Regions from separate parts of the Homo sapiens genome. Here region 2 is linked to region 1. Evidence: fine-mapped expression QTL. A gene starts in region 1. The other region holds a variant in brackets. All regions are shown on one strand. Distances are from middle to middle.

Evidence for each region. PIP is the estimated chance that this variant, and not a neighbour inherited with it, causes the effect. A credible set is the group of variants that fine-mapping cannot tell apart.
Region 2: its variant is the best candidate, but not a certain one, in a credible set for the expression of TEX264 in tibial artery (GTEx, PIP 0.65).

What each region holds. Positions count from the first base shown.
Region 1 is chr3:51,668,808-51,674,171 of GRCh38, forward strand. It overlaps TEX264 (testis expressed 264, ER-phagy receptor), which reads left to right and starts at 2,445. Exons shown (of 5, transcript NM_015926.6): 1 at 2,445-2,481. It overlaps LOC124906237 (a long non-coding RNA gene), which reads right to left and starts at 2,298. Exons shown (of 2, transcript XR_007095907.1): 1 at 1,842-2,298; 2 at 1-849. RefSeq lists a silencer at 2,181-2,610.
Region 2 is chr3:51,699,597-51,704,960 of GRCh38, forward strand. TEX264 (testis expressed 264, ER-phagy receptor) reads left to right here. Exons shown (of 5, transcript NM_015926.6): 5 at 4,128-4,727. The coding sequence ends at 4,420. Among named protein-coding and RNA genes, the nearest start is that of GRM2, 4.8 kb to the right of the region's middle. RefSeq lists an enhancer at 4,344-5,212. The variant T/C (reference allele first, on the strand shown) is at 2,732.

The DNA.
Region 1 (5,364 bases):
TCTTTGTTGCAGTGGGGTTCACTGGGCTTTTTCTGCTTTTGTTCACCTGAAGAAGGATGTATTACCAGGCTCCAGGGGAAACAGCAAGCTGACTTCAGAGTGGCTTGAAGCTAGCTGGTCCTCAGCCAAGGCAAGTCCTGCAGGGGCAGCCCTGACTAGACAGTGAGTGGCTGGGGATTGGGCACAATGCCTTCAGAGGGTGGGAGACAGTGTGTCTGTGAGTGGCTGGTGGCAGCGAAAACATTCTTATTGCATGTGTATTCTCTGTCATCCATGTTGGGGAATCTAGCCACTGGCCCACAGAGTTAAACAGAGCTTTGGAGTGTGAGAGGTGGGGGAAAGAAGGGACAGTCTACTCCAGCTTCCTGTTTAATTTCTTCAAGGGGAGGGGCCCTGGGGAAACAATTTTCTGGAAATTTACAAAGAAGGATAGAGAAAGAATCTCTGTAGTGATTCCTTGGACAGAGGAAGGCAAGAGGAGATGAAGGCCAAGTCTGGACTCATGATAGGGGAATCTGTGCTATTGGGAGATAAGATTGGGAGTGGAGGATGGTTGCAGCACATGGCTGGGCGAACAGGTTTCCTCAGACCTGTTACAAGGGGTTGGAATGAAGAAAGTGCCTTGTAGAGTAGGCTGCTGCCTCCTGGTGGCCAGCCGCTGCCTTGCAGGGATCCTGCCAAGGGACCTCACTTGGCACTGTTGGAAGCAGCCTGAGGTGAAGCTGGGCAGGCTGATGTCATGGCCTGCAGCCCCAGTCACCAGCGGACTCTCCTCCCACAAAAGAGGTGCTGAAGCTCCTGAGGCACATGTTGAACTCTGATGTGGGGCTCTAGAGTTCCCCAATCAGGCTAAGGGAAGTGAGCAGAGAGAACAAGATAAAGAATGGGCACTTCCTTATAATGGTTTCCTGGGAAAAGCTCACCACCTTCTGAGAAGCAGGAGAAATGACCACGCAGACCCTGCAGGCAGAGGCTGTCAGTCTCTGAGCCCGGGCCATGGCTGCTCCTTGTGTCAAAGGAAATGCTACCAAGTGTGTAGCCCGCCTGCCTGGGGCACCTAAGCTGAGGGTTTGACCATGTGCTTGATGTTCATAGGTAAAACAACTGCTGCGACCTGCACTGGCCCAGCCCGGAGTGCCTGTGAGGGGCCAGCTGCCTGTTCTGCCAGTTTGCCTAGAGGGCTGGGACAGGCTTGGCCCTGTGGATAAGGTTCAAACTCCCCTGCCTGCGGAAGGAAGAATGTGAAGCAGAGGGAAAGGAAGCTGGGATTTTGACTGTCTCTGTGTGCCCAGCCTGCTCTTTGCTGGTGCAGTAGTGGGATCCACAAGGTGAACCACCCTGTGACTGCTGACTTTTCCCACCACCACCTTCGTGGTGTTCCCATCTGCTGGATCCCCCTCCCAAACATCAGTCCTTGTCAGGATACCAAAGTAGCTCTTGGCCTCGCCGGTCTTGTAGCCAAGCTTATGAGCATAGTTGTCACCTTCCCCACCTCCCACCAAAAGTCCGGGATTTTCACGAGGGGAGCGTTTTATCTTTGGGCCCCTAGAAGAGTGCTTTGTAGTTTGTAGGTCCTCAGAAATTTGAGGTGAAGATTGAACCAATCATCAAGGAGCTTACACTTGACGTGGGAATCACGTAAGTTACCGCTAAACCACAAAGGTAGACCAGCCTCCCACAGCCACAACCTGGGCACTGAGGGAGGAGCCTGGAAGAAGGGCATTCCCATGGAACGTGAACTCCAGGAGGGCAGAACCTTGGTTTTGTTCACTCTATCCCCAGCCCCTAGAACTGTCCTGGCAAGGAGTAATAATAAGTGTTGGATGGATGAATATACTCACGGAAGTGGGAATGGGTGGGTGGAGGCAGGAAGCAGATATTTGCGCTATGCAGAAGTTGGATCCACCAGTTTCTTCCGCGAGCCCAGACTGGGCTTCAGCTTCCTCACCTATGCCTTTCTTGGTTCCCAAGTCTGTTGCGAAGCCACAGTGAGAGAAAGTGGCAGGACTAAAGGTGGTACAAATGCCAGAGGCTGATACTGCTGTGCTGCGCCTCCCTAGGCTGTACAAATTCTCCTCAGCCCCAGCTCCCTGGTCCCCAGCCTGGCCCTCTACTGCGGGCCACTGGGCTGCCTCCCGTACCCGAGCCTGGGCCAGGCTGTCACTGTGGTGCTCCTGCCAACCCAGATGCCCTGGGGTGTTGCTAAATCAACCTCAGCAACCGGATAGTTTGTTGGAGGCGGGAAGGTACGCCGTGGGTTCCGCCGCAGCCAGCGCTGGGGCTAGGCACACGCCCGTTGCCATGGAGACGGGGCGGGGCAGGCCTCCGCCCTCCGGGTCCCGCGCGCACGCGCCCACGGCCACGGCCATGTCCCGCCGCGAGAGGGGGCGGAGCGAGCGTGCGCGGCGGGCGCGCGCAGGCTCCGTAACCGAACCCTGAGCCGCCTGCGCGGATCGGCGTCCGCAGCGGGCGGCTGCTGAGGTGAGGGCCGGGCCAGAGGAGAGGCATACCCACTGGGGCGTAGGTCTGGGACTCCCCCTGTCCGCCCTGGCGCGACCTCAGGACTCTCCGTGTCCCCTCCGTGACCCCCGCGGCCCGGGCCGCTCTTTGCATCTTGTCTTGCCCACAGCTGGCCTCGGCCAGGTCCGAGGGCCTGGATGCGACCTTGGGGCAGCCCCTACTCTTCCGGGCAGCCCACTTCCGCGGCCACCGGTGCAGGGCATGCCCCGGGGCCGTGGAGGTGAGGGAAAGAGGCGCGAGTCGCGTTTTAACTCCGCCCCCGTCCCCCAAGGCCGCGCCTCGCAGCCTGGGCTGCAAACTTTAGCGTCCTTTAAGTTACAGACGTGCGTGGGGCTCCGTGAGGAGGTGGGCGAAGAGAAAGGCTCTGAGTAAATAGGCAAGGCCCGGGGTGAGCAGGGGCTGGAATCCGAAAGTGGGAGGCGGCGGCCCCCCACCCTCCATAGTCCTTCCGCCCTCTGCTAGCACCGAAGTTTAGCCCAGGACGGGGGCCGTTTAAGGGCCCGGCCCTCCGCCGCCGCGCACGTGAGCGGCACCAGGAAGCTGGCTGGGCGCAGCCTTCCCTGAGGCTCGCTGGCACCGGCCGCACGCGTCCATCCCGGGCCTCTGAGCGGAGGGGGAGCCGAGGCTAGAGGGAGGGCGCAGTCTGCCCAAGGTCAGCGGCAGCGGCAGTTTCTGGGCGCCAAGTGTGATTGGAGTACTCCAGGAAGAGGGGCGTGACCAGAGCTCTAGCGAAGAGACCTGACATTGTAAAGCTAGGTTTGGCTTCTGATTTCCACAGGGGGTTTGAGAATGGGACGAGGGTGCTTTAGAGGGACCGGTAGGCTTTCCCTGAGGACGGTAATCAGGGCATGATGGTTGGCTCAGTGGTTATTTCCTGGGCAGGGGTGACTGTTCTTTCAGCTCCCAGCACTGGAGCGCTCGGCCCCTGCCGCACTGGATGCCAGCAGTTACTAAAAGTGAGCCTGGCATTTCAGGTGAGCTCCCAGACCTTCTTCCTTTTCTCTTGAATATAGGGGAAATTCACGTTACCTCTCCACGTGCCGACCAAGGCTCTGAGACCCCCAGGTGGGTTTTCTTCCCCCCCGCCGTTTTCTGAGCAGTTTGGGAAGTGAGAGGAAGAGAAAGGTAGATACTAAGTTTCCTTGAGGAGACAGGAAGTGTTCAGCTGAGATGGCAGATCAGGGTGAGGGCTTGTCATTCCCAAGGCAAGTGGGGGCCTAGATGCTGAGAGTTTTCCAGCTTTGGGCTCAGAGATGTCCAACAAGGATTTAATGCTTCAGGCGTTTTGGAAGCCAGTCACCAGAGAGGAGAGAGAAAGTGGAAATGAGGGGCTGGAATCAGACTGTCTGGGCTTGTGTTGCCTGCATTTTGGTCCACGTGGCTCTGTTTAATACCTGTGTTACCTTGGGCAAGTCTCTTAACCTCTAACTACTTGAACCTTTAGCCTTACCTACCTCTTTGGATTGCTTTGAGGGTGAATGAAGTAGCTGTGTTTCAACATTTAGACAGTGCCTGGCGTATAGTAAGCATTCAGTGGAAGATTTCTCATCATTATCAAAGAAAATTGGAATGAAAGTTACTGGAGACAAGATGAGTAGGACAGGCAGAAAAGAGAGAGATACTGATGGGTAGAAGCACAGATGGGTGAGACTAGTGGGCAACACCTCAATTTCTTGACACCGAAAGTTTAGAAATTTACTTTGCCTCTTTGTGAGCAAATACTGTGTGCTCATTGACTCCAAAGACAATTTTTTTTTAGCGTAAAATCAACACCCAGCACCCACAGGGAAGAAATAATTCCACAGAGCTAAGTATTCCACAAAGTTGCAGCGTGGCCTTTTTAGCTTCAAAACCTTTTAAATGTTAAATATTACTTTTAAATAATTGGGGTGGGAATGTCCCCCCAGTGGGTCACATGGCTCCCTTCCTCTTTAAACAGTCTTCTCTGGGCTGTGATTTTTCCCCCCCGCCAGGCAACTCAGGTCAAGCCCTCTGTGTAAGAGGGTTAGGCCTCTGGCCCCAAGCTGCCTGGAGAACTAGGCAGCCTGCCTTGAATAGCTCACAGACTGGCCTCTGTGTTATGTTCCTGGGACTGCTCTTGAACAGCTTCTTTTCCTCTTAGGGATAATTGTTACTTCCTCCTGCTGTGCGACTCCCCTTTTAGCAGCCTTTTCCTCTTACTACTCACTGTTTCTTCTGTGGGCTGGAAAATTGGGATGAAGCTTGTTAACATTGGTGGTTCAAGTCTGGGAAGCTTAGTGTTGGACTTTGTTCTGCCTGCTCAGGCCGCTTTGCTCTGGTCTTTCCTCTGGTTCTGGATGGGTAAGCTTGCTGGATAGCAAGGTCCCTGCAGGCCAGATGTACTTAGAAAAGGAGAGTTTCTTATGAAATTCTCTTCCTGAGGCACATTTTTCCTCACAAGTTTTTGTTCCTTATGGTTTCCCTGTCGTTAGTAAGTGTTTGGACCCTAGCATTTGCCAGTCCTCCCTCTGGCAGTCGTCCCTGAGGCTTGGGGAGGCTGGGCTGGTGGCGTGGCTCAGCTGTGGGGAGGAAGAGGTAATGTGGAGGAAAGGCAGGCTGGCTGGTATCTGGTACATCTTCGGGGAGACTTGTCAGGGCCCGGAGTATGTCTCTGGCTGAATCACTCCTGTGCCCCTCTGTGACTCAGTTTCCCCAGGTGTGACCAGGGCTGCCAGCTGACAGTTTGAGCTGCTCTGAGATCCTCACCAACTGCGATTAAGAAATAAAGAGGCTTGTGGCTTCAGTCATCCTTGTAGCTCCCTTCCAGGTCACTCTGTGTGTAAACACCTCTGGCCCCTCCCCTTTCTGGGTCAGAGCACCCAA
Region 2 (5,364 bases), 31 kb after region 1:
ATGGGGCCCTCCTGGAGCTCCTCTCTTCTGGACTCCAGGGGCTTGGTTGAGGAGGCTCCTCCCTCTCTGGGTTGGCACTGTGGGTGTCAGGCTATGCTTGGCAGAGGGAGGAAGGAGACCCACCTACCTGAGGACCCACATGTGGAGTTGCCTGTTCCCAGACACATGGATCTACATAGATGTGGATTCACACACATTACCTCCTGGCAACACAGATACAAAGACCCTGCCTGGATTCCCTCCAGATGCAGCAGGAGTACCCTTGGAAACAAAGATCACAGACAGCTCGATGTTCATGGGAGGGGGCTGAGGCTGCTCAGGAAAGGAGTCCCTTGGGTGGGGCTCAGCAGGAAGTAAGATTGGCATAGATCTGGAAGGTAAGGAGGGGAGCAAAGTGTTCTCTTGTCCCTCAGTACGGGCCCCACCCAGAGCCAGCTGCTTTCTCCCTGCCAGGGAACAACCAGGGAGCATGCAGAGGGGAGCCAGGAGATCAGTCACCTGTGCCTTTCTCCAGGGCCAGCCCACACTCCTGCTGGCAGCCTCAAGGCCCCAGGTCCAGGCTGGAAGGCTGCTTGCCTGCCCACCCCTCTGCAATGATCTGTGACCCCGGGCTGTCTCAGGCACAAGGGGGTCTGCTGGGTTACATCCCAGATGGTCCCAGGGGGCCTTATCCTTGGCCAACCTGGTGGAGTTTGTGACTTCTAGGAGTGGTACAGGGCTGTGGGGAGAGGAACTGTCCCTCCTCTCCTCCTTCTTTAGCAGATGCTCTGCCCATCCAGTCTTCAACAGCCAAGGTCACCCTAGGGAGACGTGTCAGCTAGGGCTGGGTAGGAGGGTATTGGGAGCAGTCTCTACTCCCTAGGGGCCTGTGTCCAACACAGTTAACTTCATCTGCCACTTAATTACCTCCATGGGGTACAGCTCCCTTCTGCCTGGTAGTGCCCGGCAGACACTCTTCAGTGCCCCTACTGTGGGCACAGGACATGGCACAAGGTCAGCAGGCCCAGGCAGCCTCCAGGGCAGGAAGACAGAGTGCCTTCACTTTACTGTGACCTCCCTCTGCTGCCTGCCTCCCCCTCCTTGACCCACCCACCCAGCTTCCTTCCCTCCCAAACACTGCCTGTCAGGGTCATTGAAGGACTGCTTGGCACCCACTACAGCTGGCTGTAGTGGCAGCTCCCACATTCCCCAGCTCCTCAGCCTGTTTTCCTCCCCTCCAGCCCGCCCACCCACTCCCTGGTGTTGGGGCCAAGGGGTCTGCCCACCTCTCACAGGGCCTGTCCTGACACCCCAGCGGGACTCGGTGTTTGCCCACCAGGTGCATGCCACTGACACAGCAGTTGGTGGTGGGTGCATGCAGGATGTCTGACTGCCCAAGGCTTGGCCTGTCCCTGCCCGCCTCCCTGCTGTGGCCCTAGCTTAGGCCGGGAGGTGAAAGGGGGTGATTAGCTGCCTTGTGCCTGTTATTACATTGATGTATTATTTAGCTTCAGAGAGGCGATGAATATTTGATCGTCTTGCACTGGCTGTGGGCAGAGCGAGAGGGAGGGATTTGGGTGAAGGGGGTGGGCTTCAAGTCCCCTGCCCCAGTAGTCGTGGGGATTTAGGTAGGGCCCTGCCTTGCCTGGTATCTTCTGCCCAGGGATGCAGGCATGGGACTCTGGGACCTCCTCCTGTGTAGATCTTGGTGGGGGTATAGGGATGCTACTTCCCCGTATTGCATTCCTTTTTTTTTTTTCTTCTGCGGCAAGGTCTGGCTCTATCGCCCAGGCTGGAGTGGTGCAGTGGCAAGATCTCGGCTCACTGTAACCTTTCCCTCCCAGGCTTAAGCTGTCCTCCCACCTCAGCCTCCTGAGTAGCTGTGACAAGAGGCGTGTACCACCATGCTTGGCTAGTTTTTGTATTTTTTATAGAGATGGTGTTTCGCCATATTGCCCAGGCTGGCCTTGAACTTGTTAGCTCAAGTGATCCTGCCTCAGCCTCCCAAAGTGTTGGGATTCTAGGGATGAGCCACCATGCCCAGCTGGATTCCTTTTTTTTGTTTGTTTGTTTTTAAAGACAGTTTTCCTTTTTTGCCCAGGCTGGAGTGAAATGGCATGATCTTGGCTCACTGCAACCTCCACCTCGTGGGTTCAAGCGATTCTCCTGCCTCAGCTTCCTGAGTAGCTGGGATTACAGGTGCCTGCCACCATGCCCGGCTAATTTTTGTATTTTTAGTAGAGATGGGGTTTTGCCATGTTGGCCAGGCTGGTCTGGAACTCCTGACCTCATGTGATCCACCTGCCTCAGCTTCCCAAAGTGCTGGGATTACAGGCGTGAGCCACCGTGCCTGGCCTCCAGCTGAATTCCTTTGCTTGAAGTGTATATATGTCTCCAGGGGCTGTCTTCATTTCAGCAGGCTGTCCTGGCCTGAAGGAGGCACCCCTAGGCTCCTTCCTCTGAACATTCCTAGCCTAGGAGCTGGGTGGTAGGAGGTAGCATGCTGGGAAGCAGGCACATTCCTATACCTGGGGTCCCAAGAGAGCCATTGGGTGGGTGGGCAGACAGAACATACAGTTTAATAGGGCCAGGGAGAAACTGTCTCCCTCCTTTGCTCTTTTCAGGCCTGCGGTCCCTGGGGCACTGATCATTATTTAAGGAGCAGTGAGGGCCTGGCATCCTGTCCCCTGGTCAGAAGAAACTACCCAAAACTTAAAGCTCCCCCAGCTCCCTGACCACCTCATTCACAGGC[T/C]TCTGTCCTGGGAGCCACACCTGGGGCCTCAGCAAGAGGAGGGCCCTGGGCCAGCAGCCTGGGCTTCTAGGGCTCACCTCACCTCTGCCAGTAGCGCCCAGAGGGCATATTCTGGGGGCTGAGTGGGTGGTGGGGGTAGGGAGAGACCCCAAATTCCCCCCTCTCCTAATTCTCCCACCCCCAACCTAGGCCCCATTTGAGGCTCAAGGAAAGCCCCAGGCTGAGTCCAGGCGCCAAGCAGACCCCAGCTGCACCTGGCTTGGCTCCAACACCATGGAGACAGTGGCTGGGGAAGCTGGCTAACCCCTCACCTTCTGTGATGTTTGACAGCTGACCCTCTCCCCATCATACAGGAAGGGTAGCAGATCCACTTTCTCCCAGTCTGGATTCCTGCACACAGCGAGCCTGAGCCATGTGTTCCTCCTTGCCACCCCAGCCTGCATTCAGTGCCTCTGATCCAGGGAGATGAACCCAGGGGTTGCTCCTGGACAGGGCAGATGAAGGGGCTGCTTGCTTGGAGGATGTATTGGGGGTGGAAGGAGCAGGTTAGAAGGAGTTTGGGCCATCAACCTGGCTCAGCACTGGTTTGGGGCACCCCAACCACCAGCAGAGTGCTCTCATCATCCCCTTTTGCTATCTTGTGGCTCAGGAAGCACCAGTCATTGGGGGTGGGGTGGGTAAGGGTTTCTCAGGGTCGACCCAGGCATAGGGAGAGAAAACCCTTAACATGTTTCATCCCAGCACCCTCCTCCTTGCAGCTGGTTGAGTATTTCTCAGGCCTTCTCCATCCTCCTCGTACTTCAGCTCCCTCCTCAACTGGGACTTGGTGTGTACCAGAGGCAGGGGCCTGCTGACTCCCTGGATGCTGCTCCTGGGAGCCCTGCACGGGGGAGGGCTGCAGAGGGGCCTCCTGCTGCATTCTGCAGTCCTCGTGCCCTGTGGGTGATGTTCTGTAGCTGGCCCTGGACACATCTCTTTCCAAGCTTGAAGTGGGGGTGGGGGAAGGTGGAGAGGACACTACTTGTGTCTCTTTGTTCTACCTCAGCTCCTCACCTCAGGGCTGAGTGGCCCTTAATAAATGTGGGGGGAGGGCAGCAGGCTTTGTGGAAGTGCAGGGAGCTGAGGCTAATTTAGAGTGGGGAGAAGAGTGCACAGCTGCCTCCTCCCACCCTCTCTCCCTCCCTCCCTCCTTCCCTCCCTCCCTTCCTCCCAGCTCTTTCCCTCTGCCCTGTCTGTGCAGCCCCAGTCAGGGTAGAGGGCAGAGGGCAGCTGGAGCAAGCCCCCTGAGCCCGGGAGGCTGCATTATTCATGAGTGCACTGCGTGCTGAGTTGCCTCTCCCTGGAGGAGGGGGTGGGGTGGTCCTAGCTAACCTGTGCTCCCTTTTCCTGGTCATAGGAGCTGACACAATGAGTGACACGAGTTCTGTAAGCTTGGAAGTGAGCCCTGGCAGCCGGGAGACTTCAGCTGCCACACTGTCACCTGGGGCGAGCAGCCGTGGCTGGGATGACGGTGACACCCGCAGCGAGCACAGCTACAGCGAGTCAGGTGCCAGCGGCTCCTCTTTTGAGGAGCTGGACTTGGAGGGCGAGGGGCCCTTAGGGGAGTCACGGCTGGACCCTGGGACTGAGCCCCTGGGGACTACCAAGTGGCTCTGGGAGCCCACTGCCCCTGAGAAGGGCAAGGAGTAACCCATGGCCTGCACCCTCCTGCAGTGCAGTTGCTGAGGAACTGAGCAGACTCTCCAGCAGACTCTCCAGCCCTCTTCCTCCTTCCTCTGGGGGAGGAGGGGTTCCTGAGGGACCTGACTTCCCCTGCTCCAGGCCTCTTGCTAAGCCTTCTCCTCACTGCCCTTTAGGCTCCCAGGGCCAGAGGAGCCAGGGACTATTTTCTGCACCAGCCCCCAGGGCTGCCACCCCTGTTGTGTCTTTTTTTCAGACTCACAGTGGAGCTTCCAGGACCCAGAATAAAGCCAATGATTTACTTGTTTCACCTGGATTTGGGTTGTGTATTTGTTTGTTCTGCCTTGGTTGGGGGCGGTGGGGGGATGGCTGTACAGATAGGCTGGGAGTGGGAAGGAGCCTCCCCTCCCCAGGACAAAGAATGGAAGGAACATGGCAGGTACCCTGGGGTTGGGGGAGGAGGGGAGTTAGAGATCCTCCACGTCCTGCTCTGTGACCCCAGTGGCCAGCTGCCCCTCCATTGCAGCTGCCAGAGAGCAAGCAGAGCCTGGCTTGGGTGAGAGCTGAGTATGGGGTGCCCTTCAGGGCTCAGGAATGGGGAGCTCACAGCCTGTCTTCATCTGCCTCCAAGGGATGCCTTTGTGTCTGTGACTAGTGTGCCTGCACGCTGGTACTTCCCCAGTAGGCGAGGCTCCCCCACTGTGCCTGCCAGTGGCTGTGTACCTGTGTGTGTGCATGTGCACCCACGCTCATGCATTTGGCTCTGTGTAACCACGGATGGATGGGGCTGCTTGGGTAAAGCTGTGCCCAGGTGAGCATCAGGGTATGATTGTACCTGAGCATGGCTGAGTCTGTGTGGATGGCTGTGTGCCTGTGTGAGTGTGTGTGTGTGTGTGTGTGTGTGTGTGTATTGCTGTGCTTTGTGTCTGTGTATGGTTGTATTATAGGAGCAT